Homo sapiens: one gene and its partners. The gene in region 4 interacts genetically with the main gene of each other region. Each region holds a gene or a part of one and is shown on either strand. Other genes may lie near its edges. The genes, in order: PPIE, SLC39A9, AURKA, GTF2E1, CARS1, PFAS and COPE.

Evidence for each region.
Region 1: changes in GTF2E1 (region 4) and PPIE together harm fitness less than expected from each alone (positive genetic interaction), as found in Homo sapiens cells (one large-scale study listed by BioGRID).
Region 2: changes in GTF2E1 (region 4) and SLC39A9 together harm fitness less than expected from each alone (positive genetic interaction), as found in Homo sapiens cells (one large-scale study listed by BioGRID).
Region 3: changes in GTF2E1 (region 4) and AURKA together harm fitness less than expected from each alone (positive genetic interaction), as found in Homo sapiens cells (one large-scale study listed by BioGRID).
Region 5: changes in GTF2E1 (region 4) and CARS1 together harm fitness less than expected from each alone (positive genetic interaction), as found in Homo sapiens cells (one large-scale study listed by BioGRID).
Region 6: changes in GTF2E1 (region 4) and PFAS together harm fitness less than expected from each alone (positive genetic interaction), as found in Homo sapiens cells (one large-scale study listed by BioGRID).
Region 7: changes in GTF2E1 (region 4) and COPE together harm fitness less than expected from each alone (positive genetic interaction), as found in Homo sapiens cells (one large-scale study listed by BioGRID).

Annotation. Positions count from the first base shown.
Region 1 is NC_000001.11:39,748,455-39,752,733, forward strand, and holds part of PPIE (peptidyl-prolyl cis-trans isomerase E), read left to right. Parts: intron 1-448; coding exon 449-634; intron 635-4,279. UniProt on the Homo sapiens protein: Involved in pre-mRNA splicing as component of the spliceosome. Combines RNA-binding and PPIase activities.
Region 2 is NC_000014.9:69,401,258-69,405,536, forward strand, and holds part of SLC39A9 (zinc transporter ZIP9), read left to right. Parts: intron 1-4,279. UniProt on the Homo sapiens protein: Transports zinc ions across cell and organelle membranes into the cytoplasm and regulates intracellular zinc homeostasis. Participates in the zinc ions efflux out of the secretory compartments.
Region 3 is NC_000020.11:56,389,087-56,394,005, reverse strand, and holds the start of AURKA (aurora kinase A), read left to right. Parts: upstream 1-1,790; 5' UTR 1,791-1,838; exon of another isoform or gene 1,839-2,215; intron 2,216-3,340; exon of another isoform or gene 3,341-3,450; intron 3,451-4,919. UniProt on the Homo sapiens protein: Mitotic serine/threonine kinase that contributes to the regulation of cell cycle progression.
Region 4 is NC_000003.12:120,766,335-120,770,613, forward strand, and holds part of GTF2E1 (general transcription factor IIE subunit 1), read left to right. Parts: intron 1-4,279.
Region 5 is NC_000011.10:3,015,145-3,019,423, reverse strand, and holds part of CARS1 (cysteine--tRNA ligase, cytoplasmic), read left to right. Parts: intron 1-156; coding exon 157-285; intron 286-674; coding exon 675-804; intron 805-883; coding exon of another isoform or gene 884-912; coding exon 913-1,016; intron 1,017-1,469; coding exon 1,470-1,567; exon of another isoform or gene 1,568-1,568; intron 1,569-2,128; coding exon 2,129-2,318; intron 2,319-3,574; coding exon 3,575-3,643; intron 3,644-4,279. UniProt on the Homo sapiens protein: Catalyzes the ATP-dependent ligation of cysteine to tRNA(Cys).
Region 6 is NC_000017.11:8,262,485-8,266,763, forward strand, and holds part of PFAS (phosphoribosylformylglycinamidine synthase), read left to right. Parts: intron 1-435; coding exon 436-509; intron 510-624; coding exon 625-781; intron 782-1,090; coding exon 1,091-1,152; intron 1,153-1,290; coding exon 1,291-1,452; intron 1,453-1,727; coding exon 1,728-1,853; intron 1,854-1,985; coding exon 1,986-2,117; intron 2,118-2,410; coding exon 2,411-2,641; intron 2,642-2,803; coding exon 2,804-2,984; intron 2,985-3,071; coding exon 3,072-3,155; intron 3,156-3,377; coding exon 3,378-3,533; intron 3,534-3,749; coding exon 3,750-3,869; intron 3,870-4,016; coding exon of another isoform or gene 4,017-4,039; exon of another isoform or gene 4,040-4,268; coding exon 4,269-4,279. UniProt on the Homo sapiens protein: Phosphoribosylformylglycinamidine synthase involved in the purines biosynthetic pathway. Catalyzes the ATP-dependent conversion of formylglycinamide ribonucleotide (FGAR) and glutamine to yield formylglycinamidine ribonucleotide (FGAM) and glutamate.
Region 7 is NC_000019.10:18,905,657-18,909,935, forward strand, and holds part of COPE (coatomer subunit epsilon), read right to left. Parts: intron 1,457-4,279; coding exon 1,304-1,456; intron 280-1,303; coding exon of another isoform or gene 211-279; intron 1-210. UniProt on the Homo sapiens protein: The coatomer is a cytosolic protein complex that binds to dilysine motifs and reversibly associates with Golgi non-clathrin-coated vesicles, which further mediate biosynthetic protein transport from the ER, via the Golgi up to the trans Golgi network.

The DNA of each region.
Region 1 (4,279 bases), on a different chromosome or scaffold from region 4:
TGGCCAGGTGTGGTGGTTTACACCTGTAATCCCAGCACTTTGGGAGGCCAAGGTGGGCGGATCATCTGAGGTAGGAGTTCTAGACCAGCTTGGCCAACATAGTGAAACCCCATCTCTACTAAAAATACAAAATTAGCCAGGTGTATGGTACATGCCTGTAGTCCCAGCTACTCAAGAGGCTGAGGCAGGGGAATGACTTGAACCCAAGAGGTGGAAGTTGCAGTGAACTGAGATTGTGCCATTGCACTGCAGCATGGGCAACAAGAGTGAAACTCCGTCTCAAGGAAAAAGAATCCCTTATAGTCCTTACAAGGTTAGTATCACAAAGGTTTATAATGAGTATCTCTTATTTTAAAACAAAAATATGAACACTAAACCAAAGTTTTTTCGAGGTTTTTTATTTTGTCCTATTTTTTAACCCCAGCGCTTTTTCCTTTCTCAATTCCAGAGAATTTCCGCTGCCTGTGCACTCATGAAAAGGGCTTTGGCTTTAAGGGAAGCAGCTTCCACCGCATCATCCCCCAGTTCATGTGCCAGGGCGGTGATTTCACAAACCACAATGGCACTGGGGGCAAGTCCATCTATGGGAAGAAGTTCGATGATGAAAACTTTATCCTCAAGCATACGGGACCAGGTAGGAGCCAGTTGGCATGTGGTGACGAGGGAGGCTGGGCAAGGGTGGGATGGCCAGGCAGGATGGAAGGACAGGTTGTAGTTCTGGCTGGCGGACACTAAGAGTCTGGAGGAGACCCAGCCACCAGACATAGGAGAACCATGCAGCCTTGCTAGGGTGGAGTTGGCTTGTTGACATTCAGGTACTGTTCATCCCCCAACCGTGTCCACAATTCCTATTAGCCCCGCTTGGATTCTGTGGTCTGCTGTTGCAGGCTCTTATGCTCTCAACCCCACTGCTCTCCCTGCCCTCACCATCAGATTTACTCAGTAAAATCTCGGTGGTTAGTCCCCCAGCAACTAGAGAAAAAACACAGAATTGTACTGAACAATCCCACTTGAAATTTATAACTATAGTTCTTAAGGGGACCCTTGCCAACCTGACCAGATTTCCCTACTTGATGCTCAGTCCCAACCGGAGATGATGTGTCCATGCCCGTCTTCACTTCTGAAGCCCTCATATCATCACCTTCCCACCTCATCTAATGCTTCACCTCCTGCATCTCTCCACTCGTGCATGCTCTTTCTTCCAATTACAGGGGATGAGCTGTCTCTCCTAGGCCAGCCTCTCCACCTGTGGACTGGATCCTGTCCCTCTCCTCTACTTAGGAACATGGCTTCTAAAGTTGTCCCCTTCTTGTAATCCATTTCCCCTGCTCTGCTAGATCAGTCCATTAGCATGAAAGCATGCAGTTATCAACCTTTAAAAAAAATCTTCATCCGGTTGCCGGGTGCAGTGGCTTAGTCCTGTAATCCCAGCATTTTGGGAGGCAGAGGCAGGCGGATCACCTGAGGTCAGGAGTTGGAGGCCAGCCTAACTAACATGGAGAAACCCCATCTCTACTAAAAATATAAAATTAGCCGGGCGTGGTGGCGCGTGCCTGTAATCCTAGCTGCTCGGAAGGCTGAGGCAGGAGAATCACTTGAACCTGGGAGGCGGAGGTTGTGATGAGCCAAGATCGCACCATTGCACTCCAGCCTGGGCAACAAGAGCGAAACTCCGTCTCGGAAAAAAAAAAACAAACTTCATCCTTGTACTCTTGTTCCCTCTCCAGCTATCACCCATGCCCCTGGTCCCCCATCTTTTTTCAAGAAGTAAAAGCATAACTTCTTGAAAACATGGTACAGACTTGCTGCCTTCGCGTTTTCTCTAATCCCTTCTAGGCAGACTTCTAGTCCCATCTCGCCATTGAAACCACTCTTGCCAAAAATACGAGTAGCCAGTTCTTGGCGATCATCTTATCCCACCTCCCAGATGTTATCCCACCTCCCAGGAGCATTTCATACTACAGGTTGAGTGTCCCTTTCCTGAAATGCTTGGGACCAGAAGTATTTTGTATTTTGGAATATTTGCATTATACTTACCAGTTGAGCATCCCAAATCTGAATATCTCAAATCTGAAATGCTCGAGTGAGCAGTTCCTTTGAGTATCATATCAGTGCTCGTGAAGTTTCAGATTTTGGGGCATTTTGGATTTTGGATTTTCACATTTGGGATGCTCAGCCTGTACTAACTCTGTTCTCCTTGACTCCTTCTTCACTTGGCTGGCAGGACTCCTGCCTCTTCTTGTCTCCTTTTACCTAGATGGCTGCTTTTTCTGTCTTTGCTGTCTCCTTCTTTTCCTGACCCTTAAACACTGAAGTGGCTCAGAGCCCATTCTTTGGTTCTCCAGAAGCCTGTTACCCTGTGCTCCGTTTTTCTAACTGGTGGTTTGTAGGGCCCCTCTTTACTATACTGAACTGACATGTGTAGGTGATATAGCCCACTGACCCACATCGTTATTTTAAAAATCAGTATTCATCTGTAACTATAATAGGGAAGAACATCAGAGGAAATAAACGAATTTGTATAATACTCGAATATGTTTCCAGATGTACATGCTTAAGCACAGCTGTGTCAGAACACAAAGTGAATTATTCAGGCGTCTGCCCCTGTACTCAAACGCAGCAGTTAGAAATGCAGACGGGAGTGTCAACTGGATACCACTAGGAGTGATGCTATTGGTGATACGGCTTTGTGAAATGGTAGATAAAGTTGATTAGAGTCCAAAGTAAAGAATAATCTGTTTATTTACATAGTAGTTACATTCCTAGAAGATTCCATGGAAAATCAAAAGCACTCCAAAACTTTGGGCTTATATGTATAATGGAATTATGTTTTAGGTGCAGATAACTGTAAACACATTTTTTACCTATACCAATATCTGGCAGGATATTTGTTGTTTTGTTGTTGTTTGGTTTTTGTTTTTTTGAGACAGGGTCTCTTTCTGTTGCTCAGGCTGGAGTGCAGTGGTGCAAGACGGCTCACTGCAGCCTCAACCTCTCCAGCTCAAGCAGTCCTGCCTCAGCCTCCCAAATAGCTGGGATTATAGGTGCACGCCATCCATAATGCCAGGCTAATTTTTAAGTTTTTTGTAGAGACAGGGTTTCATTATATTGCTCAGGCTAGTCTGGAACTCTTAGCTTCAAGTGATCCTCCCACTTCAGCCTCCCAGAGTGCTGGGATTACAAGCATTAGCCACTGCGCCCAGCCTCTAGCAGGATGTTTGTAAGGGCCAAGAGGATATGAGACAATTCATTGTGCCAGACATTGCAGAACATCTAGCATTCCAGGCCCCCACCTGCTAAATGCCAGTAGCACCCCCACAATATTTCAGACAGTCAAAAACACTTTCAGGCCAGGCACGGCGGCTCATGCCTGTAATCCCAACACTTTGGGAGTCTGAAGTGGCAGCCCAAAGCCAGAGGATCACGTGAGTTCAGGAGTTCGAGACCAGCCTGGGCAACATAGTGAGACCCTATATCTACTGAAAAAAGAATAAAAAAATTATCCAGGTGTGGTGGTGCACGCCTGTAGTCTCAGCCGCTTGGGAGTTGAGGTGAGAGGATTGCTTGTGCCCCAGAGATTGAGGCTACAGTGAGCTGTGATGCACTCCTGTACTCAGCCTGGGTGACAGAGTGATCCCCATCTCAAAAAAAGTAAATTCAGATTTCCAAAGGTTTCCTAGGGACAGGACACCAACCCCACTGAGAAGCAGTGCCCTAAGCAGTCACACCCGGTCCCAGGGCTTTCAGCGGTATCTCTGAGTTAAGTTTGTGCAGACTGGCATCTGCATGCTGATGGCTCCCTGAGCTCCAGACTCCTGTCCAACTGCCTGCCTGTTGTCTTCACTGGATATCCCACGAGCATCTCACACTTTACATGTCTAAAACAGCTCTTGGCCTTCTCCCCTAAACTCTTCCTCCTCCTCTTCCCTGTTTCAATAAATGACTCCACCATCCACTTAGCCGCTTGATCAGAAACTTAGGAGTCATTGTGGACACACACACACATACATACATGTACACATACACACACAGACACACACATATACATGTACATTCTCTTACGTGACAAATGTCCATGTTACCAGGCCTCACTGTGTCATAGCTGTCATTTTGAATGGCTCTTTTCCACTGATTGTGAGCTCCACCAGAGCTTGGACTATGTTCTGCTCATCAGTGTTCCCAGGGCTTAACAGGGACCTGGTTGTCAAGTAGACACTTAATTGTTAAATAAATGAATTAATGAAAGAACAGACCAGTATAAAGTGATTGAAACACCTCA
Region 2 (4,279 bases), on a different chromosome or scaffold from region 4:
GGCTGAGTAGCAGCTGTTAGGCACAGTCCTCCTTGCCCTTGAAGCCTGTTTCACTTATTTGGGTTACCTGCCTGCCCAGTACTTTGTGAACCTGCTATGTTTCCTTTGACATAACCATATTTTCTTATAACTATATTAGAATTGAATTGACATTAGTAGGGCTGACATGTGTGAGATTTGGGTTGGTTTGTGTATTTTTAAACATATTGAAGTAACATTTATGAATAATCATAATTAATTCTGATAAGCAACCAGTAAAACTTTTTATTTCTATAAAATGCCTTTAACTTTACCAATTCCAGTATTTTTTCAAACTACCTTGAATGATTATTGCAATATGCGGATATATACTATTTCCTTTTTCACTAGAAGGAAATGTTTACAGGAGTGGTGTTAATAACTGGGTCATTAATACAGATAATTAGTATGTCATGTCATTTGTGGCTTTCTTAAATTGACGGTCAGATGGTCTTTTCCAGCTGTAGGTCTTAAAATGCTAAAATCAGCATTCATAATATCTGTTTATTATTAGAGTAGATGCAATGCATTTTGAGCTATTAGAATAAAAAATGAAAGTTATATATAACTTAAAGACATCCTAGAATTCAACTAGGATTTCTATCTCCTAGGAACTAAACATATTTTCTAGGTAAATTATGCCATTATTATGGACCAATGTTGTAATGAAACTAGTGAGATGGTAAATTTGTAAAAATAAATTTCATTCACGGGGGACTGGAAAGCACCATTTCTTTCCTTAGAAAATAATTCCCCAAACTCCTACACTGGATAAATGACTTGCCTTTTTAAGGAAGTCTGGCTTTCTTAGAGGCTAGTGTTACTGTTTTACAGTTCACTTTCGTTTACATCAGGGGTGTCCAATCTTTTGGCTTCCCTGGGCCACATCAGAAGAAGAATTATCTCAAGCCACACATAAAATACACTAACACTAAGATAGGTGATGAGCTAAAAAAAAAAAATGCAAAAAAAAACTCATAATGTTTTAAGAAAGTTTATGAATTTGTGTAAGGCTTCATTCAAAGTGCTCCTGGGTTGCATGCGGCCCACGAGCCATGAGTTGGACAAGCTTGATTTACATGAAAAGATATGCTTTTTATTCATGTTTTTAATCTTGCTGCTGCTTTCTCATTCAATACTTTTTCTAAAAATATCTCAGAACAGGAATAAAAGTCAGATGATCAATTATGGCAAGATTAGTATTTAAAAACGAGTTAAAATTAGGTAGTCTGAAATTGCAGTAGTGGTGGGGTCTACCTGCCAGATGTGCCCACCAAGAGGTTTATGTGACATTGATTTCTCTGTCAGTTTCTCCTCACCCCAAAACTACCTTTCTTGATACTTTTGTGGCCTTCTTCCTTGCCCTTTGACCTGGCAACTGTACTTTCATGCCTTAAAAATTTATAAAACAAAGGAAAAAAAATCCGATTCTCAAATGCAATTATAAGTAACTATGATAATCAGGATGTAAATTTTTTCAGTATACAGGAAAGAGAAACACTTTTAACTTTTAAAGGAGGCCAGCCAGGTGCTAAGTGGCTCACGCCTGTAATCCCAGCACTTTGGGAGGCTGAGGTGGGCGGATTACCTGAGGTCAGGAGTTCGAGACCAGCCTGGCCAACATGGCGAAACCCCATCTCTACTAAAAATACAAAAATTAGCTGGGCGTGGTGGCATGTGCCTGTAATCCCAGCTACTCAGGAGGCTGAGACAGGAGAATTGCTTGAACCCAGGAGGCGGAGGTTGCAGTGAGCCGAGTCCCACCATTGCACTCCAGCCTGGGGAACAAGAGCAAAACTTTGTCTCAGAAAAAAATAAAAATAAATAAATAAAAATAAATAAATAAAGGAGGCCAAAGCATGCTTTACACAAAGGAAGCCCTGTTTGGTAAGGGAGTGAGACCCGTTGGTTTATAGTTAACACTGTCTTATGTTTTTTCGATTGAATTGCTAATGAGTAGTTTTCTTTGGCTCTAAATAACAATGTTACATAAGTAGGTTGAGAGCCTATATTACCTAGTATAAACTCAGTGCTGCTGCAGTTGATAAATGGAGCTATGATACAAAAACAGATGGCTCAAGTGGGATTTCAGATTGATTATCTGAGGGTTGTTACTCACCTGAGTATGTCTCCTCTTTGTCACAGAGCTGGTAACAGAGAGCAAGCTGTTTTTGGCTCAGAGCTCTACAGCAATATTCCTCAAACTGCCTGGTAAAGGATCAGTTTTTGTTTTTAATTTTTATTTCAATCCATACCAATACACTTATAAAAATGAAATAGTAGGAAAATGAAGTGAAAAAAAGACATAGAAAATACAAGCCCAAATGTATTGTTAAATTCAACAGATAAAAAATTACTACTATAATTGTAATAATCATATTGCTCTAAAAATTTCTGAAGGCTTTATCTCAGTTGCCATACTTTTCTTATTGCAGACCAGTTTGAGTTATAATGCCACATTTTTCATGTATTAAAACAGCAAAGCAGGCCAGGCGTGGTGGCTCACGCCTGTAATCCCAGCACTTTGGGAGGCCGAGGCAGGCGAATCATCTGAGGTCGGGAGTTCGAGACCACCCTGACCAACACGGAGAAACCCTGTGTCTACTGAAAATACAAAATTATTTGGGCGTGGTGGCACGTGCCTGTAATCCCAGCTACTTGGGGGGCTGAGGCAGGAGAATCGCTTGAACCTGGGAGGCGGAGGTTGCAGTGAACCAACATTGCGCCATTGCACTCCAGCCTGGGCAGCAAGAGCAAAACTCCCTCTCAAAAAAACAAAAAACAAACAAACAAAAACAGCAAAACTGGATGTAGTGGCACACACTGGTTAGTCCCAGCTACTCCAAATGCTGATGTGGGAGGATCACTTGAGCCCAGGAGTTCAGGGTTGCAGTGAGCTATGAGTGTGCCTGTGAATAGCCACTGGCAACATAAGGAGACCTACTCCCTAAAATAACCAACAGCATAAATCCATAAGTTGGCAGATGAAAGTAGTGCTATTCTTAGGATGATTTTAAAGATGAATATGATTAATAATGCACTGATTTCAAAAGGGACTGTCTGAGACAGTATCATTCAAAGTCAATGTTACTACTTGAACAAGCTATTAAAATCCAAATCTCTTCTGTTAAATGACCTTCTAGGATTGTTGTGAGGTTGAAATAATATAAGCACAGGCTTAACACTATGTCTAGAACATAATAAAAACTTTCAAAAATATTGAGGCAGATTCTCAATACTGATTAGAAAAACTTGTAAAGATTTTCATTTTTATAACTTTGTTCTAATTTATAATTGTTAAACCTTTTATTTGGAAACAGACTTAATAATGGGAAGCTCCTCCCCCTCCTCCCCTTCGCAGTCATGGAAACTTCTCGGCAATTTGTTTGGAATCCAAAGGTCTTGTTGTGGGGTTTGGTTTGCATTACTATTTACCATTCTATTTGGAGAGGCCAGGGCTTTTCCTCTACCCTCCCTGCTTTATACTATTTTTCTTAGTATTTAACTCTCTTTTCTTCATTATACTTACTCTCATTTTAAGCTTTGTTTTGTTCTTTCGTGTTTTAAAGTTTTGTGTCTGTATTAGTCCATTCTTACACTGCTAATAAAGACATTTCTGAGACTGGGTAATTTATAAACGAAAGAGGTTTGATTGACTCACAATTCAGCATAGCTGGGGAGGCCTAAGGAAACTTACAATCATGGCAGAAGAGGAGGCAAACACATCCTTCTTCATGGGGCGGCAGGATGGAGAAGTGCTGAGCAAAAGGGGGAAAGCCCCTTATAAAACCATCAGATCTCGTGAGAACTCACTGTCACAAGAACAGCAAGAACTCACTATCACAAGAACAGCATGACCTCCCACCAGGTCCCTCGCATGGGAACTACAACTCAAGATGAGATTTGGGTGGGGACACAACCAAACCATATCAGTGTCTGATTATAATAACTGACTCATTCATAATAAGTATCTTTAGGGGTTTGAGTTACCCGCAAATCAAAGGTTTATTGTGTCTGAAGAACAGATTTATTCAGTATGCTTCTGCCTCTACAATAGGTTCTCTTTGAAGTAGATTTAACAATGTTACATTTTTAAGGACTTTTATATTGTCTGGTACATTGCTCTTACCCTCTTATGGTAATACAAGAGATTTTATACCTGTTTGGAATTTCATTTGTAAATTCTAAGATTTGAGCCGGGCATGGTGGCTTATACCTGTAATCCCAGTGCTTTAGGAGGCTGAAGCTGGAAGTTTGCTTG
Region 3 (4,919 bases), on a different chromosome or scaffold from region 4:
AATTGCCAACTCCAGATCCCTGAGCTTAACCACTGAAGGAGTTCAGGAAATGCCAGCCCAAAACAAGATGCTTTGGCGGGCTGATTACCTTGAACTGAGGGCACCTGGAGAACAGCAGGCGGGAAGAGGCTTTCCCTGTGCTTTCCTTACCTGCCTAAAGTCTGACCCTCCAAAAATACCTCAATTGTCACGAATCCTTATAAACCAGGGAAGATTAACTCGGATCACATGAGAGATTAGAGGCTGACACCACCCAGAAGATCACCTATTCTGTCTGCATAACAAACTTGATTCACCATACATTTCCTCCGTTCACCGTCCCATAACTTGTGTTAGAGCTGCTTCCCGCCCCCCGCCCCCAATTCTCTATTCATTCCTTTCAGTAGCTCAGGATGCCATGTAGGCTTTAATCATCTGACTTCAACTTTTAGTCTCGTATTTTGTGGGACTCCTGTACGTAATTAAATATCGTTTTTCTCCCATGGACAATGTTCAGTTACCCGAAAAAAATGGGAGATTCTTAAGTACCAATAAAGAATGAAAATCACAAGTGGGTAGTCTGGCAAAGAAAAGTTGATGAGAGATTCTACTGTTAACGTTGGGTTAATATGACTCGAATAATTTCCGTATGCTAGCTCAATGCTTTACATGCACATCCTGTTTACCCTGCAGTAATCTGTTAATTCGTCTTATGTGAATTTAACTCTTAGTCCTAATAAGGTACCTGGAAGGATGGAGGGAAGCCATTTTTGGTTCCCCTACACCACTGTTCTATCCGGTCTCTTCACTTCTGCTGAGCACATCCCGGGTGTACATACACACACACACACACACATATGTGTGTGTATATATATGTATATGTGTGTGTGTGTGTATATATATATATATTTTAAGTGGCCCACCCCTAACTTCTCAACTCCCACAGAACGTTCACTCGCCAGGTAAACAGAAGCCTAATTATCCCCAATTTGCAGGTGAGCACACGAGGACAAGAACCCGATCCAGGACCGGATACATCGCAGTTGGAAAGGCTAGAACACAGATGCCCCCTCACTATATGCGCCGCGACCATCTGGATGCAGAGGCGAACTAAGGACTGGGTGGGAATGGAAGCGAGGCCCTTCGAGAAGAGGAAGGGGTGCAGGCCAAGCCGGGCAACTTAGGAAACGCAAAGTAGAGGCGCATGCCACCTTGCTAACTCTCGACTCTTCCAGTCTCGCCCCAGTCGTTTCTGTGGTTTTCTCTAAATGCCCCAGCCGACCGCACCAGCTACTCTCCCCGTGTCCCAGTACCAGCTGGTCCGGTTCTCTTGGTATCCCGCTCTCTCCTGGAAAAATGGAGGCGCGAATCCTGCCCAATCTACCGCTCCGAGCGCACGTTCACTGCGCACGCTGAAAGGGCGCCAAGCCGACCGCTGCGCTATCGATCGGTCCCACTCTCTCTTGCTTTTCTCGCCATCTTACTTACTGGCACGTTCAAAGGTTAGTTCACCTCCTTGGACTTTATCTCCAATGCGTCAAGCTTGACGTCAAGGGGCTGTTGCTTCACCGATAAATGGCCGACCGCGGAGAGCACCCTGGGGCTGGGACTGCCACAGGTCTGGCTGGCCGTTGGCTCCACCACTTCCGGGTTCTTAGGGAGCAAGTGCGCCTGCGCGCGGTGTGCGCCCTTAAACGCGACTCAAGGCGTCGGGTTTGTTGTCAACCAATCACAAGGCAGCCTCGCTCGAGCGCAGGCCAATCGGCTTTCTAGCTAGAGGGTTTAACTCCTATTTAAAAAGAAGAACCTTTGAATTCTAACGGCTGAGCTCTTGGAAGACTTGGGTCCTTGGGTCGCAGGTGGGAGCCGACGGGTGGGTAGACCGTGGGGGATATCTCAGTGGCGGACGAGGACGGCGGGGACAAGGGGCGGCTGGTCGGAGTGGCGGAGCGTCAAGTCCCCTGTCGGTTCCTCCGTCCCTGAGTGTCCTTGGCGCTGCCTTGTGCCCGCCCAGCGCCTTTGCATCCGCTCCTGGGCACCGAGGCGCCCTGTAGGATACTGCTTGTTACTTATTACAGCTAGAGGTACAAGGGGTTTGTTGAGTGGTGTTGACATGCGCGGGAGGGGTGGGTGGGCTTCAGATTGGATTTTGTCCTCCGAGATCACCTGGGTAAGAAAAGCACAGAAGGTCTCTGCTGTGTTGGAGTTCACGTTCTAGTGGGTGGGGAGACAGACGGTAAGCGTACGGAGAACTTGCAGCTGGGGTGGGTGTTACAGAGGAAAAGCAGGAGTGCGGTTTAACGGGGGCCGCTTTAGATAGAATAGCCTAAGAAGGCCCTTGTCCTGGCTGGATGAGTGGGTGAATTGATGAATGAGAACCTCCTTGCAGAGGCCTTCCCGGTCCGTACTTCTCAGACCGTAGACCTTGGAGCAGTTGTACCGGGATAACTTGCAGTGCTTGTTAAACATATAGCTCCACCGAGAGCCCGGTAAATCAGAATCTCTGAGGGGTAGGACCCAGGTGTCTAGTTATTAACAAACTCTCCAGATGATTCTTAGGTTTCATTGAGAACTAGGGATGCAGACCGGTGCATACAAATCGTCTGGGGACGTTAAAATGCAGAATCTGTTTTTTTAGACCTGGGGTTAGGCCTCAGAGTCTCCATTTCTAAGAACCATCCGGCTGAGGTAGACGTAGCCACTGTCCTTAACTCTCGTAATGTCTCTTCCTCTTCCGTAACCTTCCTTGTCCCTTGAATTAAACGTTTTTCAGCAACCTACTCAGTTCGTCCTTCCCTTCATCTCTGCAGACATGCACAGGTCTGAGGGAGGAAGGAATAAACCGTATAAACCTCCTGCGCTATTAGCCTAACAGCTTTTCTATTCAAAATAGTAGGACTTCTGGTTTGAACTGAATGGATCCTGTGAAAGTCATCTGGTTCTTCAATCTGGTTGCAGATTAGAGTCACCTGAAGGGCAGTCTCCTTGGCGTTGTCTCCAGAATTCTGGATTAGAATCTTATTCCATTCTGCTTGTTATTCAATTTCCCTAGAAAGAAAGGTAGAATAAATTGGAGCAAATGCCTGTAGCTTCTGTCAGAAGAATGTTGAATAAATGTTGTTAGGCCTATGTGATCTCATTAGACTGCTACTTAGAATTGTAAGGGAAGTAAAGCATTAGAGCATGTGTGAAATTAAATATTTGATTAACACAAGTGTGCATTTCCTTGTTGCTGTTTATCAACTTTTACTTACCCACTGTTTTTTTATAAGGGCTGCAGCCTGTAGTCTGGGCCTGGCTTCATCATGGAATTATTTGCTTAATTGTAAAATGGTAATCTTAATTTTTTTTTTTGAGACAGGGTCTCACTCCATTGCCCAGGCCAGAGTGCGGGGATATTTGATAAGAAACTTCAGTGAAGGCCGGGCGCGGTGGCTCATGCCCGTAATCCCAGCATTTTCGGAGGCCGAGGTGGGTGGATCACCTGAGGTCGGGAGTTCCAGACCAGCCCTACCAACATAGAGAAACCCTGTCTCTACTAAAAATACAAAATCAGCTGGGCGTGGTGGTGCATGTCTGTAATCCCAGCTACTCTGGAGGCTGAGGCAGGAGAATTGCTTGAACCCAGGAGGTGGAGGTTGCGGGTGAGCCGAGATTGCGCCATTGCACTCCAGCCTGGGCAACAAGAGCAAACTCTATCTCAAAAAAAAAAAAAAAGAAACCTCAGTGAAATGAAAGACTGAACTACACACCTGGGGGAAAAGCGTAATAAAGGGAGCAAGAAGTGCAAATGCTTATGGCAGGGGACTTATTTGCAGAAAGAAAGCCTTGTGTGGCTGGTACACGGTTGACAAGAAGAGGAGATGAAGTCAGAGAGGTAGTTAGGGTCCATGTTCTGTGAGACTTCAATAGGCCTGTCTATGCAGGTTAGGAGTTTGCATTGTTTTGATTGAGTTGGGAGCCATGGGGGTCTTCTGAACTGAGGATCAACACATCTGATTTGTTAATGAGATTGCCGGCCTCAGTGTTAAGAATGGACCATGACAGGGTAAGGGTGGAAGTGGGGAGGCCATTGGGAGGCTGTTGGAAAAAACTCAAGGGAGAGAGAATAATGGTTTGACCAGGTGGTAGTAGTAGAGGTGGTGAGCAGTGATCTTGAAGGCAGAGCCTACAGAATATGCTGGTGGATTAAATGAAGGGTTTGCGAGAGAGAACCTCGTAAAGGGTTATTATGCCAAGGCTTTTGGCCTGAGCAACTGACAGGATGGGTTTGCCATGCACTGAGATGAGGATGTCTAGAGACTAGATTTGGGGAGGTGAGAGTGGGGAGAGATTAGGACTTCTGTTTGGGACATGTTAGAATGGAGATGCCGCTCAGATAATCAGGTGCAGATGTTGCATAGAAAGTAGAAAATGTAGATCAAGAGTTCAGGGGAGAGGTCTGGGCTGAAGAATGAATATTTGGGAGTCCTCAGCCTGTAGATGGTACTGAAAGCAAAGAGACTGGATGTACTCGGCTAGGGAGTAATTGGAGATGGAGAAGTCATTCTAGGCCTGAGCTCAGGGCACACCCATGAACAGGGAGGTGAGAAGTGGAGAAGGGAAGAGGTTCAGTTTTGGATATGTTAGGATTGAGGTGCCTGGCAGACATTTTTGGGAGATCCTGGGCAAATCCTTGGATATCCAAGTCTGACAGTCCAAGGAGAGACTAGGGCAGAAGACGCACTTTGAGTGGTCCTCATGAAGGCATTTAGAGCTGAGGCACTGGGTGATATGGATCCCTGGTGAAGGTGTAGATGGAGAAGTGGAGGGTCCAGGGACTCGTTCTTGAGTCACCCCAGACCCTTGATCTGGCAAAAATGAGACTGACCCAGCAAGGAGGGAAAGACAGGACGACTAGGTGGTAGATAAACCTGGAAGTGAAGTGAAGAAAAAAGTGT
Region 4 (4,279 bases):
AGTTTTCATGACCTCAGTGTCTTTCCTAACACCCTTCTGTGGCTTTCCTATTACTAAAGAATAAAGTCAAAATGAAGCTTATCATTCAAGACCAATTTATGGTCACCCCAGTTTATCTTGTTAAGTCTGTTTTTTATCATTCTTTTTGATAACTGTTTTCCTATCAGACTGAAATTGCAGTCTAACATCATTTTTCAACCACCCTACTTCTCTTATGATGATCTAGAATGTCCTGTTCCCTTACCCCTTCATCTTCTCCTTCATCTTTTATCTTCTAAACTGTCTCTCAAAAAGGTTTACCTTCTCAATAAGCTTTTCCTAGTGTCCTCAGCTAGAAGTCACATTCCTTCTTTGAACTCCAAAACATTTATGTACTTTATTTTTTGCACTGATCCCTGATTGTTTTATCTCCAGACATCTTTCTTCCCTACTAAAGCTTCTTGCTGACTGGTTCTGTCTGTGTATGCCACCACCACTCTCTCAGTAGCGTGGGTGCCTGCTTGCTACATAGTATGTGCTGGGTTTCCGTGTCCTCCTGCCCCTTGCCACTTGCCCCTTCTGATTTCAGGAAAACTGATTTGCATTTTTACAATGCGTAGTGAAATGTATAAAAAATGCTGCTGGTATATTAAACTGGTCTTAAGTCATTTTCTGTAAAATGTCAAATTTCTTACTTTTCTTGCATTTTTTAGGGTCCCAGAAGAAAAATAAGAAATTCTACATTTGGCTTTGACAGGCTTCTCATTTATAACTAATGTTTTTGTGATAAACACAGGGCTCAGAGATGTCAGGCTAGCTTTTCCTTTTGTAATATTTGCTAGATGTGGTATTTATTGGGAGACTATTCTCCATGGGTCTCTCACATGTTATGCATGTCTTGGCAAGCAGAGATACAGACTGACTGCTTTTTTTCCTGGACTATCATTTTCAAGGATGTTTATATAACGAGCAGCCTTGCAAGACAGAGATAGTATTTCTCTTCAGAGCAAAGAGCAGGTTTGCTTATGGTCCAGTATAAAAAGTGTCTCCTTCCAGAGCATGTTTACATAGAGTTTATAGTAAGTAAGGATAATGCCACCCTCCAGTGCAAAGAATGGGCATGCTTATGCCCATTATAAAATATTTGAGTTCCTTTTAAGCTCAGGCTCTCTTTCCTGTAACACAACCCATTGCATGTGTAATTGTTACCTGGCCCTTCTATCGCACCCCATGGAAATTGGGGCATGGGGAACTGGCTTAAATACTGACACTGGCTACTGCTATTTCCTTGAGTAGTGAAGTTCTTTGTCTCTGACCTGGGGTCTTGTGTCTTCTGCCAGTATCCATGAAACTGGCAGAATAACTTGTTAGCTTACAAGTAGGGTAAAATCTCAGACCCTTCACAGTTCTTAGTAATAATGTTAAAGCTGCTGTTTTCATACCTGCAAAATCAGCCCTTCTGTAAGTAACTCCTGTTAAGTTTGGATGAGATTAGAATTTAGGTGCCTTATGACTATATACTTTATTTTTCCCCCTATTCTTTTTCATGAAAATAAATTACTCGAGTTAAAGGACTGTCATTCTGAGATTGTCCTTCTGTGAAATAATGATATTAGTGTTGTTCTCTTTCTCTCTTTTCCCCAAATAAAAGCACTGCTGTTTTATGAGGATGAGCTACACTGACAAGCATGTTGATTTGTTTACTTAAAGCTGAAGTTTGGAGTACATATTGTCTTAAAATGAGAAATGGGGTATTTGGGAGGACATTTTTTTAAAATTCGGGTATAACATGACTTTTTAATGATAAATTAGATAAATAATAAAACATGTTGGATAATGATAATGCTAAGGGAAAAGAAAATGAAAGAGGATACGATTGTTTGGGTGGACAAGACAGTTGAAATTTTAGATAATGTTGGCTACAGAAGGCCTTACTGGTGGCTTCTGAGTAAAGAACTGAAGTAAGTTTGGAGATGAGCCATGTGATTTTCTGGAGGGAAGGCATCTGGGTAGAGGGCACAGCAGTGCAAAGGCTCTGCAGCAGAGTGTGCCTGATGGGAGACATTGAGGAGGCCGGTTTGTGATGCTTTGAAAACAGATAATGAGAGGGTTGGAGTATTAACCTTTGTCTTAGCTGTGTTTCTATACTTTACCCCAGAGCATTTGCTTTTATGTTTATATATTAATCACCTTTCCATTTGAGAAATGAGATTCCTTTCTTTAAAAACATTTTGAAAACTACAGAACTAGATAACTTGTCTTCCAAACTATTCTTAGTTCTCATTGACAGTCTCTGTAGGTGCTTATTTTTCAACAGTCAATTTAAGTCCCAGTCTCACATTGGTGTGTTTTTTAATTCAGCAGGTATTCGAGAGCTATATTCAACCCTACTTTATGTGGTTTATTTTTAAGCCCCCACATGATTATATTCCTTGCTTCTGTTGAAGAGAAGAGGCTGAGACAGCTTGGAACAGTTGGAGAATAATATAAGATAACATTCTACCTAAAACCTTTCTAGCCAAGGTTGCTTCTTACCCTTTGTTACCAAATATAAAAGCTAGTTTTCAACTCTTGTTGGCCTCTTAATATTAGGACCATACATTTCCTTGAAACACCATCCTGTCACTCTGGTTGCACCATTTCTCTTTCTCAAGGATTCCTCATTCCTTGAGTTTATGCCTTAACTGCTTCTTCTCACTCTCCTTAATCTCTTCGGATGCTTCTATCTACTATATGGCTTCAGTTACCACCTATAGGTTGTTGATTCTCATATCTAAATTTGTAGTCTAAACCCCTCTCTTGAGCTGAATTGTTAGCATTTGTAATTAGTTGGCTTTTTACATATTCATTTTTATATTTAAAGCAATTTGATATCTTTTACCTAAAAAAAAAAAAAAAGCTAGTTCTTCCTCTCTTTACTTTGGTATAATAGTATTCTTGTCCAGTTGATTAAGTTATAATCTTTATGTTCGTGACCATTAGTCAAAAGCTATCAGGTACGCACCTGTAGTAAACAAAGTTAGGTTTATTGATGCTTTCTGCAGCAAGGGAAGCCACATACCATGGGGAAACCATGAAATGTCGGTAAGATGATGTTGGACAGACTTAGAGAATGTGGGCTTTTGTTGGGTAATTTTGGGGAGGATTCAGGGAAGTGATGAAGGTTTCCTTTGGATTGGATGCTGTGAAGAAGTGGGGATAATTCTATGATTGGGTATCTTCATAAATCTTATCTAGGAGGTGACAAGAACAGAGTGACGCTAAAACTAAATGGTAAAGAAGCAGCAGTCACTTGTGCAAGATGGGATTTTTTGTGGTTTGCATGGAGTCCTTGCTTTTGTCTGTTCTCAGACGCAATTCCACAGTGGCTTGGGTTTGCCTCACTTCCATCATAGTCTGATGTTAGTGATCTGTGAGATCTTGTTTGACAGAAAAATGCCACAGTCTAGCTGTGAGTGCTGAGCCACCTCCTAGCTGTGAAGGGCTGCATTTCTCTCTCTTTCTCACTTATTTGGGATAGATGTAGATTAGGTGGCATTTAGACAATAAGAAGATGTATTTTAGGGTATTTGAACAAATAATTTACATGCTATTGGCTATGTGTGAGGGGCAGTAAAGAAAATTATTATACTGGTAATGTATCAGTAGGATCTAGTGTTATGTTGAAGTAGAGATCACTTGGTTGTTTGTTCTTTATGTATCAATCATACATGGGGCCTTTTATAGCTAAATGTTTGAGTACTTAACTATTTGCCAGACACTAAGTACTTACATGTTCCCTTTTAATCTTTCAAGTAAGTTGAGTCAGAAAGGAAGGATGCATATTCCTGTCTTTGGGAATAAGAACCAAACTGGAAATCCAGGTGTGGCTAGTGGTGTAGACTGTTAAGTAATGTTTAAGAGTGTGAGTTTTAGCATAATAGATTGAATTGATTAGATACAAATGGTTAATAAATTTTAAAAAATAGCCTGTGACAATGTTCAGGATGACTAGAAACTCTTGGTTTTAGGTATTTATTTGGCTTTCCCCATAACGTAGGCCCAAATGTGTAATGTGAAAACAAAAAAGACTAAAGCTGCCAGGAAAGGGTACAAGTTGTGGTGGTAAGCTGTAAAGAATTTGGCTTTAAGTTAAAATAAATACATATTAGAAATATTGTGATTAAAAACTATGCTGAAGTTAGGGATGAAATTACTTTGAATACATCAAAAATGATAGATGGATAGATATGTGATGAATAGCAAAATGCTAATTGTAGAATCTAAATGGTGGTCACATGGCTGTTCACTGTGAAATTCT
Region 5 (4,279 bases), on a different chromosome or scaffold from region 4:
TCGCCCAGCCTTCCCTTAGTCTTTTCATGTGCGGGATTTAACGCTTGTTCCAATAAAGTTCAGAGGATGTAAGGGCCATCAACTTGGAGTGATAAGTGATAAAGGCCTGGACAAGCGGGTAGGCTGGTCAGTCACTGTGTGTTCGGCTTTCTCCAGGGTCGTCCGGGCTGGCATATCGAGTGCTCGGCCATGGCAGGCACCCTCCTAGGGGCTTCGATGGACATTCACGGAGGTGGGTTCGACCTCCGGTTCCCCCACCATGACAATGAGCTGGCACAGTCGGAGGTAGGTGAAAACAGAGTCCCCTTGTCAGGTGCAAGAGCACAGTGTTCATACTGCAGTGGAGGAAAAGTCAGCCCAGGCCTCAGAAGGGCCTCTCTCACTAGAACTTGACACCTTCATCGGGGCTTGTGGGTGGAATCTGAACCCTGATCATTTAGTGTGGTTTCCGCATTGACAGCCTGGCCTTTGGCAACAGACTAGCCTGGATTTGAACCAGTTGTGTTACCTGCTGGCTTATTAACCTGGGCTGTCCTTCCAAGCCCTGCCTGCACCACCTGGAAAACGCAGCTCCTGCCTGTGGACAGCACCAACAAGGCAGCAGACAGTGCAGGTGGCAGGAGGCGGCCCCAGTAACACATGACTGTTGACATCCTTTGTCTCTTTCCACGCAGGCCTACTTTGAAAACGACTGCTGGGTCAGGTACTTCCTGCACACAGGCCACCTGACCATTGCAGGCTGCAAAATGTCAAAGTCACTAAAAAACTTCATCACCATTAAAGATGCCTTGAAAAAGCACTCAGGTATACACTGGCTTCTCCCACAGACCCCCCAACCACCTTCTCATACATGTGTAATGGCTGTAGCACTCGGGAGAATAAGGGCGTTGGCTGTCTTGTGTCCCCCCACAGCACGGCAGTTGCGGCTGGCCTTCCTCATGCACTCGTGGAAGGACACCCTGGACTACTCCAGCAACACCATGGAGTCAGCGCTTCAATATGAGAAGTTCTTGAATGTGAGTCCCCAGCCCCTTCCTGGAGGTTGGTGGAGCAGCCTCCCCTGCACAGTGGGCACCTTGTGCAGTGGTGATAGGTGCACCAGCCTCCCGATGTCTCTAATGGAGACCAGCACATGGGTGGAAGCACCTCCATGCTAGTGGGTATAACAGGCTCGGGGCCACTCCTGAAATGGCTGACGGCTCAGCAGAGTGGACAGAGGCCTCGTCCTCCTAGTCACTGCAGTGCACGTCCTTCTGACTTGTACTTTCCACCAAATGAGCATCTGTAAACCTAAAGCAAGAGCATGTTTCTGTCAAAGAAATATCTTTTCCTTTCTTTCTGACCACTTGTGTAATTCTGGTCTTTCAGATTTTTACCAAAAATAAAATCACAGCAGTAGAAAGTTGTAACAGATATTTCAGGATGGAAAAGTTGCCTAAATGCTGTTAAACTGATTTTTCTAACTTCAGGAGTTTTTCTTAAATGTGAAAGATATCCTTCGCGCTCCTGTTGACATCACTGGTCAGTTTGAGAAGTGGGGAGAAGAAGAAGCAGAACTGAATAAGAAGTAAGGTGGTGCCATTTCTTTGGGGTTTTTGAGCATGCCCATGTTCTATGCCTAGCCTCGCATCTTGGCCACCATGTGTCCTGGACTGTCGAGGAAGGGCTGGGGACACTGTCGTACGTTGTGCAGAATTAATTCAGGATAGGCGGCTCTGCTAATGGGAGCTGCTCTGGGTGTTGAAGTGCATGGAGAATTTCTTTTTTGTTTTTTCTTTTTGAGACGGAGTTTCGCCCTTGTTGCCCAGGCTGGAGTGCAGTGGCGTGATCTCGGCTCACCACAACCTCCACCTCCCGGGTTCGAGCGATTCTCCTGCCTCAGCCTCCCGAGTAGCTGGGGTTACAGGCATGCGCCACCATACCTGGCTAATTTCAGATTTTTAGTAGAGGTGGGGGTCTCTCCATGTTTGTCAGGCTGGTCTCGAACTCCCGACCTCAGGTGATCCGCCCACCTCAGCCTCCCAAAGTGCTGGGATTATAGGCGTGAGCCACTGCGCCTGGCCACATGGGGAATTTCTATGGTGTGTTTTCAGGTCTGACTTCACATTCCTTCCTCTTTGTTGCTCAGCTTTTATGACAAGAAGACAGCAATTCACAAAGCCCTCTGTGACAATGTTGACACCCGCACCGTCATGGAAGAGATGCGGGCCTTGGTCAGTCAGTGCAACCTCTATATGGCAGCCCGGAAAGCCGTGAGGAAGAGGCCCAACCAGGCTCTGCTGGAGAACATCGCCCTGTACCTCACCCATATGCTGAAGGTAAGCCAGGCCCCAGGCAGGCGTATCCCTCAGCCTGTGTGGACACAGGAGCCAGGCCCCAGGACTGGGAGAACAGAGGCCTCTGGTGCCCCCCAGTGCTGTGCCTGGTGCCCAGCACCTCTGAGACGTGGAGATATGCTTCTGTCCTCTTTGGTTCCTGGTGTGCTTTTCACGCGTTAGAAATAACACCCATAAGCGGAGCACAGTGGCTCACATCTATAATCCAACACTGTGGGAGGCCAGGTGAGTGTATCACCTGAGCCCAGGAGTTCAAAACCAGCCTGGACAACATAGTGAGATCCCGGGTCTATAAAATATATTAAAAATTAGCCAGGTGTGGTGGCACACACCTGTTTTCCAGCTGCTTGGGAGGCTGAGGTGAGGGGCTCGCTTGAGCCCAGGAGGTTGAATAGTGAGGTGTGATTGCACTACTGCACTCCACTCTGGGCAATAGAGGGGAGACCCTGTCTCAAAACCAGACAAAAATAAGTAACATCCATATAGTTGTCCTTACTCAGAGCTATTTCTTTCCTTTGACTCCGTTTCCCTCTACTCCCATCTTGGAGTTTGAAAAGCAAAACCACGCCAGGCGCTGTGGCTCACGCCTGTAATCCCAGCACTTTGGGAGGCCAAGGCGGGCGGATCACAAGGTCAGGAGATGGAGACCATCCTGACTAACACGGTGAAACCCCGTCTCTACTAAAAAAAATACAAAAAACTAGCCAGGCATGGTGGCGGGTTCCTGTAGTTCCAGCTACTCGGGAGGCTGAGGCAGGAGAATGGCATGAACCCAGGAGGCAGAGCTTGCAGTGAGCCAAGATTGCGCCATTGCACTCCAGCCTGGGCGACAGAGTGAGATTCCATCTCAAAAAAAAAAAAAAAAGAGAAGCAAAACCAGGGACAAGGCCTCCTCTCTGAACACATCCTGTGCAGAGCCCTTCCCCGCAGTGCACCTTGAAAGGCCAGCAGGGCCTGGACTCAACTCCCCTCCCCTCTCCTCCTCTTTCCTTGTTGTTGGGCTCCAGTGGCTTCTGGCTGAAACAGAGCTGGAGAGGGTAGCTGTGAGTCAGGGCCATCCTGGAGCAATGAGGGCACCCTCAGGCTCGGGTTTCTGGGGCTCCTGGAGCTGCTGCTTCCATCTCTTTCCTGGTCTTGGGGCACCCCCTCCCGTGAACGAGGAACACAGCTCACAGCTGCTCGCCACATGCCGCCTTCATCTTGCCGCAGCTTCAGGTCCCATCTGTTTCTTTTCCTAGATCTTTGGGGCCGTAGAAGAGGACAGCTCCCTGGGATTCCCGGTCGGAGGGCCTGGAACCAGCCTCAGTGTGAGTAGCATGCAGGGTCCTGCCTTCTGCACCTGCTCCCTCCCCACTCCCTACCCCTCTGTGTCCCTCTGAACTGCCCCTCCTCTGTCTGCCCACCCACACCAGACCCTTCCGGACAGCGCCTCGAGCTAAATGGCAATTCTGGCTCTGAGAGTGCTAAGTGTGGTCAGCTGCCCTGCCGGTGTGGAGGGTCTGCTTTGGTTGTGACTGTTGGTTTGGGGCACTTTGCCATTGTGCTGTCCCATGAGCTTGGTCTTGGACCCCAACTACATAGGCCGCTGCTTATTTGCATTTTGCTGCGGCCACTTGGCATCATGAACACACATGACTTCGTCACATATACTGACCTGTATTCAGTAAATGCTTCATCGAAAGGCTGCAGAGCTCACAAACAGCACAGAATTTACACTGATGGGGAGATACGCCACTGTCTGCCTCGGTCCCCATGGGGCTGGGCAGATGCCCTAACAGGCCCAGTCCTGACCCTGAGCCCAGGTCGGTCCACATGGCCTGAGCCAGGACCCCCTGCCCCAGAGCTGTGGCCCACAGGTCAGGGGGAGGTCATCCTGTAGAGCCCCCTGTCTAGTGGGTCTGTGCGGTGAGAAAATCCATCCAGAACACCCTGGCAGTCTGTTG
Region 6 (4,279 bases), on a different chromosome or scaffold from region 4:
CAACCCAGTCAAGTGGTAAGGCTTCTGGGCTAGGCAGGGTGGCTCACGACTGTAATCCCAACACTTTGGGAGGCCGAGGTGGGCGGATCACCTGAGGTCAGGAGTTTGAGACCAGCCTGGCCAAGATGGTGAAACCCTGTCTCTACTGAAAAAATACAAAAATTAGCCGGGCACGATAGCAGGCGCCTGTAGTCCCAGCTACTCAGGAGGCTGAGGCAGGAATATCGCTTGAACCCAGGAGACGGAGGTTGCAGTGAGCTGAGATCACACCACTGTACTTCAGCCTGGACAACAGAGCGAGACTCCATCTCAAAAAAAAAAAAGCTGGTCAGGCTTCTCCCTAACATCAGCTTCCTCTGTGTTCACGCTGCCTTGCTTTCGAGGCCTCTTCTCGTGGCTTCCCCAGTGTTCTGATTCTGCCTTCCCTTCTTACAGGCATGGAAGTTGTAAAGGTTGGAGGTCCCGTCTACAGGATTGGAGTTGGAGGTGGAGCTGCTTCATCTGTGCAGGTGAGTGGGAATTGCTAAAGGTGCAGAATCCTTGATATAACCGGGCCCCAGGCATAGGGGAGCGTATAGGAGCTTCCAGTCTCGCTGAGCTGAGCTATGCCATATATGCCCCCAGGTGCAGGGAGATAACACCAGTGACCTGGACTTTGGGGCTGTGCAGCGAGGAGACCCGGAGATGGAACAGAAGATGAACCGTGTGATCAGGGCTTGTGTGGAGGCCCCCAAGGGAAACCCCATCTGCAGCCTTCATGATCAGGGCGCTGGTGGCAATGGTGAGGAAAGGAGTTGGAACAAGAGACTGGGCCTGCCTGGTATCCTGCCAGGTTTCGTTTAGGGAGAGGTATCAGGAATCTCCAACCAACCACCCAGCTCTGGGTCCCATTCTCCATGCTCTGTACATTCTAGACAGGTTCAGGGTTGGAAGGGTGGAAGCCTGCTGCCGTGGGATGATTGGTGGTAAGGGTGCGGCAGCAGTTGACACAGGAACACACCAAATTACAGGCCCCTTTGGAGGCCAGGGACTGCCCTTTGTTGCCTGACCACCACTAGGTCACTGCTTCTCCTTGCAACCCTCTCACCAGGCAATGTCCTAAAAGAGCTGAGTGACCCAGCTGGAGCCATCATTTACACCAGCCGCTTCCAGGTGGGTCTCGTCCCCTGAAGTGTGACATTTTCCCACCCCTGCCAGCCCCAGCCCGCTTCCACCCATCTCTCTTGCAACAACATGAGACGTGGGAGTGCCCACTGGCCCTTCTCTTTCCTCCCCGCCGTGGCTGTGCAGCTTGGGGACCCAACCCTGAATGCCCTGGAAATCTGGGGGGCTGAGTACCAGGAATCAAATGCTCTTCTGCTGAGGTCCCCCAACCGGGACTTCCTGACTCATGTCAGTGCCCGTGAACGTTGCCCGGCTTGCTTCGTGGGCACCATCACTGGAGACCGGAGAGTGAGTTGGCCCAGGGAGTTGGGAGCAAACACTGGGGCAGACATGAGCCACCTGGGTATGGGCTAGAGGGAGAGCTGTCAAGGGAGAGAGACGAGAGGAAGATGGGAGGTAGTGGCAAACAAGCTGTGGGGAATGTTGGATCCAAGGAGGGGCAGGGACTCAATATGGAAACCAAACAAGGAGTGGAAAGCACATTTGTGCCCTGATTTCTAGGAACATTCCTTGCTGGTGTTCATAGTCTCATCCCCTCTGGGTGGGGTCCCTGTGGTCTATAGATAGTGCTGGTGGACGATCGGGAGTGTCCTGTCAGAAGAAATGGCCAGGGGGATGCCCCCCCGACACCCCTGCCAACCCCTGTGGACCTGGAGCTCGAATGGGTGCTGGGCAAGATGCCTCGGAAGGTATGTGGGGTTGAGGGGATGGGTTTTTCCTGTGGTCCTCTCCACACCACCCTTTACCCTACGTGCACTTTGTCGCCTGTGTGCCCAGCCCGCCCCAGGTGTTCACACTGCCTGTCGCTGTCTGTGTTGCAGGAGTTCTTCCTGCAGAGGAAGCCCCCCATGCTGCAGCCTCTGGCCTTGCCCCCAGGGCTGAGCGTGCACCAGGCTCTGGAGAGGGTTCTGAGGCTGCCCGCCGTGGCCAGCAAGCGCTACCTCACCAATAAGGTCCTCCCTGCACCCTTCCTCTGCCCCCTGCCTCCTTCCTCCGCTCAGCCTCTTCTGCCCTCCCACCCTTAGAAAGTGCTGTGGGGGTTTTTGCCTGGCCCTGCAGGAAGCAGCAGGGGCAGGGCAGCCACCCTGATGGCCTGGTCTCCCTGCTACCCACCTTCTAAGTAGAGCTGTTGTCTGCATTGGGGGAAAGACAGGCCTCCCACTGCCCTGAGTGCCTTGGGGGCATGTGCGGGAGCTCAGGCTGTCCCTGTCCCTTGCTCTCTTGCTAACCCCACCTGGTTCCACAGGTGGACCGCTCTGTGGGAGGCCTGGTGGCCCAGCAGCAGTGCGTGGGGCCCCTGCAAACTCCTCTGGCAGATGTAGCGGTTGTGGCACTGAGCCATGAGGAGCTCATAGGGGCTGCCACAGCCTTGGGAGAACAGCCAGTCAAGAGCCTGCTGGACCCAAAAGTCGCCGCCCGGCTGGCCGTGGCCGAAGCCCTCACCAACCTGGTGTTTGCTCTGGTCACTGACCTCCGGGTGAGTTCTCCCACAGCTTCTATCCTGGAGCCCCCGGGCTTCAGGACCCTTCCACATCCATCTGTAGCCCTTCATTTCATGTTGCAACCTCCCAGTCCGCCTGCACCCCTGGCCTCTCCACATTTCTCTTCCCCTCTAATGCTGTGCCTCTGCCACCCCCAGGATGTGAAGTGTAGCGGGAACTGGATGTGGGCAGCCAAGCTCCCAGGGGAGGGCGCAGCTTTGGCGGATGCCTGTGAGGCTATGGTGGCAGTGATGGCAGCCCTGGGTGTGGCAGTGGATGGTGGCAAGGACTCCCTCAGCATGGCTGCTCGGGTTGGCACTGAGACCGTGCGGGCTCCTGGTGAGGTGTGGGAGCCCCAGGGAGGGGAGGAGGAACTATGGAGCTGGGTTGGCAACTCATTCCTTTGGACTCCTCCTTGCTCTACAGGGTCACTGGTCATCTCAGCCTATGCCGTCTGCCCAGACATCACAGCCACTGTGACCCCAGACCTCAAGCATCCTGAAGGGAGAGGTATGGACATGGCCCCATCCTTTGTGATCTTTGCTTGTGTGATCTTTGTTTGGCTCCTGCTTTGTGAGTGCTGGGCCCCCATCTCAACACTGGGCTGTGGTGTTTTCTGGGACTGATTGTCTAGGTGTCTCACCACATGCTGGGAATAGCAGTGCTGTGAGCCCCTCAGGGATGGGTCCTCCTGAGCTGTTCCCCTCCCCTCACCCCTCCCCGTCTCCCCAGGCCATCTGCTCTATGTGGCTCTGAGCCCTGGGCAGCACCGGCTCGGGGGCACAGCTCTGGCCCAGTGCTTCTCCCAGCTTGGGGAACACCCTCCAGACCTGGACCTTCCTGAGAACTTGGTGCGGGCCTTCAGCATCACTCAGGGGCTGCTGAAAGGTGAGTGAAGACCCCTGGGGAGATAGCGCACAGGGTGCCAGGCGTGCAGCAGGCGTTCACCATCTGAGCAGTGGGGCAAAAGGGACTCCAATGGACGATGTACCCCAGATCCCCTGACATTCTGACACACACTCTTGATGGACTGACTCCGGAAGGTGGGGTGGGGCTGTCAGGTTTGGGTCCCGAGGTTGCTGAGCTTTCTTCTCCTTCCTCCAGACCGCCTCCTCTGCTCAGGCCACGATGTCAGTGACGGAGGCCTCGTCACATGCCTGCTGGAGATGGCCTTTGCTGGAAATTGCGGGCTACAGGTGGATGTGCCTGTCCCCAGGGTTGATGGTAAGGAACCTGGGGTCTAGTCTCAGGCCCGGGCTGCCTTCTCTACCCTGCAGACCCCATTTCCAATATATTAAAGAGTGGAGTGCCCTCCAGTCCCCTTTCCCTGAGTCTTCCCTGACTAGCTTTTCTGTGCTGTCTCTCTGACAGCTGAACTGGATGGAACTGGCTGACACCCACCATGTTCCTGACTGCACCCCTCTGAGACTTCCCATCCCTGAGATGTCCATGATGAAACATCCTCAGTCCTGCCGTCCTAGCCCTCATCCTCCCTGATCCCTACCCTACTCTCTGGCTGCATCCCTCTGACCCTCACCCTGGCCCTTCCTGCATTTCCCTGATCCCGCCCCAACTCCCTTGGCCCTTCTTGCATCCCCCTGACTCCCCACATTGCTCTCCCAGTCCTGTCTGTG
Region 7 (4,279 bases), on a different chromosome or scaffold from region 4:
GCGGGTCGCCACAGACACATTGCATGGCCGCTCCACACCCAGGGCTCACTGTGTGTGTCTGGGATGTTCCTAAGTCCTGTGCTTAGGACCACCAGCCCCGCCCAGCAGAGGAGGACACCCTCACTCCCACATTTCACCGCTCAGCTTCCTCAGGCCCAGGAGCTCTGGGGGAGGTACCCAGGATGGGGTTTCAGGCCCCGGCCCACTCACCGCCCATCTGGAGAAGCAGCCTCCATGGGCTGTGCTTCCAGATGGAGGGCCCTGCCCGGACTCGACACCCTGGAGGCATCAACACTCAGGAACAAGGCCCTAGAGGAGGGCCACGCACCCGCCCCTGCACCTGCACCTGCAGCAGAGCCCTGGGGCCACCCACTCTCTGCAGGCCCCCTCGTCCCCTCATCCCTCTCAGCCCCAGGTGGCTGTGACCACGAATTACTCGTGAGGCCTCTTGTTCTTGTTTTCCTGCCAACAGGAGCCAGCACCTGGACCAGCACCGAGTCGGCCGGCTCGCCGACAGTGTGACATCCCTATTTATTTTCTTTTTTGTGTGTGAGTCAGGGTCTGGCTCTGCCACCCAGGCTGGAGTGCAGTGGCACCATCACGGCTCACTGCAGCCTCCACCTCCCAGACTCAAGGGATACTCCTGCTTCCGCCTCCCAAGTAGCTGGAAACATAGGTGCATGTCACCATGCCTGGCTCGCCCTGCAATTCTAAGCCCTCTGTGGATGGAGGTGGGATGGGAGCAGATCCACAGCGACCATGAAATGCCCAGCTTGCAACTCACAGTGGAAGGCAGGCACTGCAGGGACAGCTCACGGGGAAGAACTGACACACTTTCTGTGACCAGTGCCCTGGACATGGCCCGGAGTCACATCCTAGGGTGGAGGGGGGCACCAACCTTGCAGGGCTTCAGCACCCCAACCCCAGAGGGCCCTGGAGGAGGGCCGGTATGGGGGGCCCGGGGAGGCCTGAGAGACTGGGCCCAGGGCCGAGACACAGAAGGCTTCGTGGGGGGTGGGGACACAGAAACCGAGCAGAGACAAAGCCGCTTTCTGCTCTGCCCTTGGGAACAGAGGGTTGCAGCCTGGGCACCGTGTCCTTGGATCTGCAGCCTGGTGCGCAGATGGGAGTGCCTCCCACACTGGGCAGGGGAGCTGGAGCCTGGACAGCAGGCCAGGGCCTCATTTCAGCACCACCTTTCTCTGCTCCCATGACGACAGCCAGCGAGGCCGTGCGCAGCCTGGAGATGTGGCAGGGGGCACTTGCCTCCCTGGGCTGGCCCCAGAGCAGGGAGGCCACTCACCACTCCAGGCTGTCCCCCTGGTGCAGCGCACGCAGGGCGGCATCCGGGTTCTGGTCGTGGAGATAGATGGAGGCGGCCATGAGCAGGAAGGTGGTGTTGGTCACGTCCACGCTCCTGCTCATCTCTCGGTCCAGCTCGGCCACGATGCTGTCCCTGCAAGACAGAGATGCTCACGACCCACAGCTGGGGTGGCCTCTGTGGGACCTCAGAGGGTCCCCTTCCTTGGAAGCAGACAGGTCCAGAGAGGGTGAGCCAGGCCCTGGGGGTGCAGAGCAGCAGCAGGCCGAGCATCGAGCTGTCCCGACATGTCCTCCCTCCGTTCCTATGAAGCACCTCTCATGCTGGGCCAGGCAAGGACCCGAGGCCGGGAGATGTGGGGTGGGGCGCTCCAAGGGGACATGAGGAGGCACCGTCAGTCTCACACCAACCTCACCCGCCTTCCTGAGGAGGCTGGTGGGCCCAGCTGGGACTCCTGACCATAACCCATCAACCCTGTGGGCTTCAAGGCCACGTCTTCTAGCAGGAGGTCGGCCTGGGTGCCGAGGGGCCGTGCAGAAGGATGGGAGCCCTGGGGCACCCCCACTGCCAGGGCAGCTGCCCTCAGTCCCTGAGAGCCCAGGGTGCTGGCTGCACCCTGAAGATGGCCAGTGTGCTGCGGGCCAGGGCCAGGCTTGAGCCCAGGCAAGGCTGAGGACCGGCTCAGCTCCGAGGGCACAGGTCACCCATGCCTCCATGTCCCTAACTGGACCCAGACCCTCCATTCCCCATGGCTATTGAGCAGCTAAAAAGAGAAGGCAGGTGAGGGGGCCACCCTAGACCAAAGCTGGTGTTCTTCTGGGTTCAAACGTGGCTCTGTGACCCCGTAAGCATCCACGCGCATCTGGGGGCTGTCTGCCCAGGGCCCGTGTCTGAGGTGTCACTGAGGGCATGGCATGTCTGATACCAACCAGGCTCCACTGAGGGCTCGCCACAGTGCCAGGTCCAACAGACAAGTGACTTCAGGTCTGAGTCTGTTTCCCCGTGCTGAGGGACCATGTTACAGGGATCATGCAGGGGAGGAGCAAGGAGCTCCCAAGACCATCTTACAAAGCTTCCTGAGGCTCCAGCACACAAGGGTGTATAAACACTGCCAGTTGTCGTAGCGTTGGTACTGTAATGTTGTCATCCTAAGGTGTTACAATTACCAATGGGGCCGGGTACTGTGGCTCACACCTGTAACCCCAGCGCTTTGGGAGGCCAAGGCAGGATCGCTTAAGCCCAGGAGTTCAAGACCACCCTGGGCAACATAGTAGGACCCCTTTTTCTACAAAAAAGTAAGAAAGTCAGCTGGGCCTGGTGGCGCCTGTAGTCCCAACTACTTGGGAGGCTGAGGCAGGAGGATGGCTTCAGCCCGGGAGGTTGAAGCTGCGGTGAGCTGTGGTCACACCTCTGCACTCCAGCCTGGGTGACAGAGGGAGACCATCTCAAAAACAAGCAACAGCAACAAAATCAATTACTGGGCGGATCGCTTGAGCCCAGGAGTTTGAGACCAGCCTGGGCAACATGGCAAAACCCCATCTCTCTTTTTTTTTTTTTGAGACGGAGTCTCGCACTTTCGCCCAGGCTGGAGTGCAGTGGTGCGATCTTGGCTCACTGCAAGCTCCGCCTCCCGGGTTCATGCCATTCTCCCGCCTCAGCCTCCCGAGTAGCTGGGACTACAGGCACCCGCCACCATGCCCGGCTAATTTTTTTTGTATTTTTAGTAGAGATGGGGTTTCACGTGTTAGCCAGGATGGTCTCCATCTCCTGACCTCGTGATCCGCCCGCCTCGGCCTCCCAAAGTGCTGGGATTACAGGTGTGAGCCACTGCGCCCGGCCAGGCAAAACCCCATCTCTAAAAAATATACAAATTAGCCAGGCATGGTGATGCGTGCCTGTAGTCCCAGCTATTCGGGAGGCTGAGGTGGGATGATCACTTGAGCCTGGGAGATCAAGGCTGCAGTAAGCCAAGATTGTGCCACTGTATGCCAGGCTGAACGACAGAGCAAGACCGTATCTCAAGAAAACAAAATCAAAACCAAAACCAATTACTAATGGATGCTCCTTGTCCCCGGGGCGTCCTGCCAATGAGGTCGCGGCTGTGCAGCCAGATGAACGGACCACAAGCCCCTGCCTGGACCGCCTGCTCTCCGGGGCTGCTTTTCTGTGATGCTCACAGCAGCTGCTGCTCCTGGGGGACCCAGGGTTCCCTGCCTTCACTCCAGCTGGTGAAGTAAGTGCAGGGTGGGAGAAACAGTGGCCCTGGGAGGTCACCTGTCTCAATGTCCTGGAGCTGCTGTGGCAAAGCACCACAGCCCGGGCAGTTAAGGACAACAGGGATTCGTTCCTCACAGCTCTGGAGGCCGTAAGTCTGAAGTCAAGGTGGCGGCAGGGCTGGCTCCAGCTGGAGGCTGGAGGGCAAGGCCGTCCCAGGCCTCTCTCCCAGCTCTGGTGGCTGCTGGCCACTCGTGGTGCTCCTTGGCTAGCAGACATGTCACTCCAGTCTGTTGTCACATGGGCTTAACTCTGTGGGCCTCTTTCCTTTTTTTTTTTTTTTTTTTAAGACAGTCTCCCGCTGTCACCCAGGCTGGAGTGCACTAGTGCGATCTTGGCTCACTGCAACCTCTGCCTGCCAGGTTCAAGCGATTCTCCTGCCTCAGCCTCCCAAGTAGCTGGAATCACAGACATCACATCCTGTTAATTCTGTATTTTTAATAGAAATGGGGTTTCACCACGTTGGCCAGGCTGGTCTTGAAAACTCCTGACCTCAGGTGATCTGCCCACCTCGTCCTCCCAAAGTGCTGGGATTACAAGTATGAGCCACTGCACCCAGCCCTCCTTTTATCTCTTAAAAGGACACAAGTCCTTGGCTTTGGGGCCCACCCTAAATCCAGCATGTCTTCATCTCCTTATCTCTTAATCTGATCGGCAAAGACCCTTTTTCCAAATGATATCATA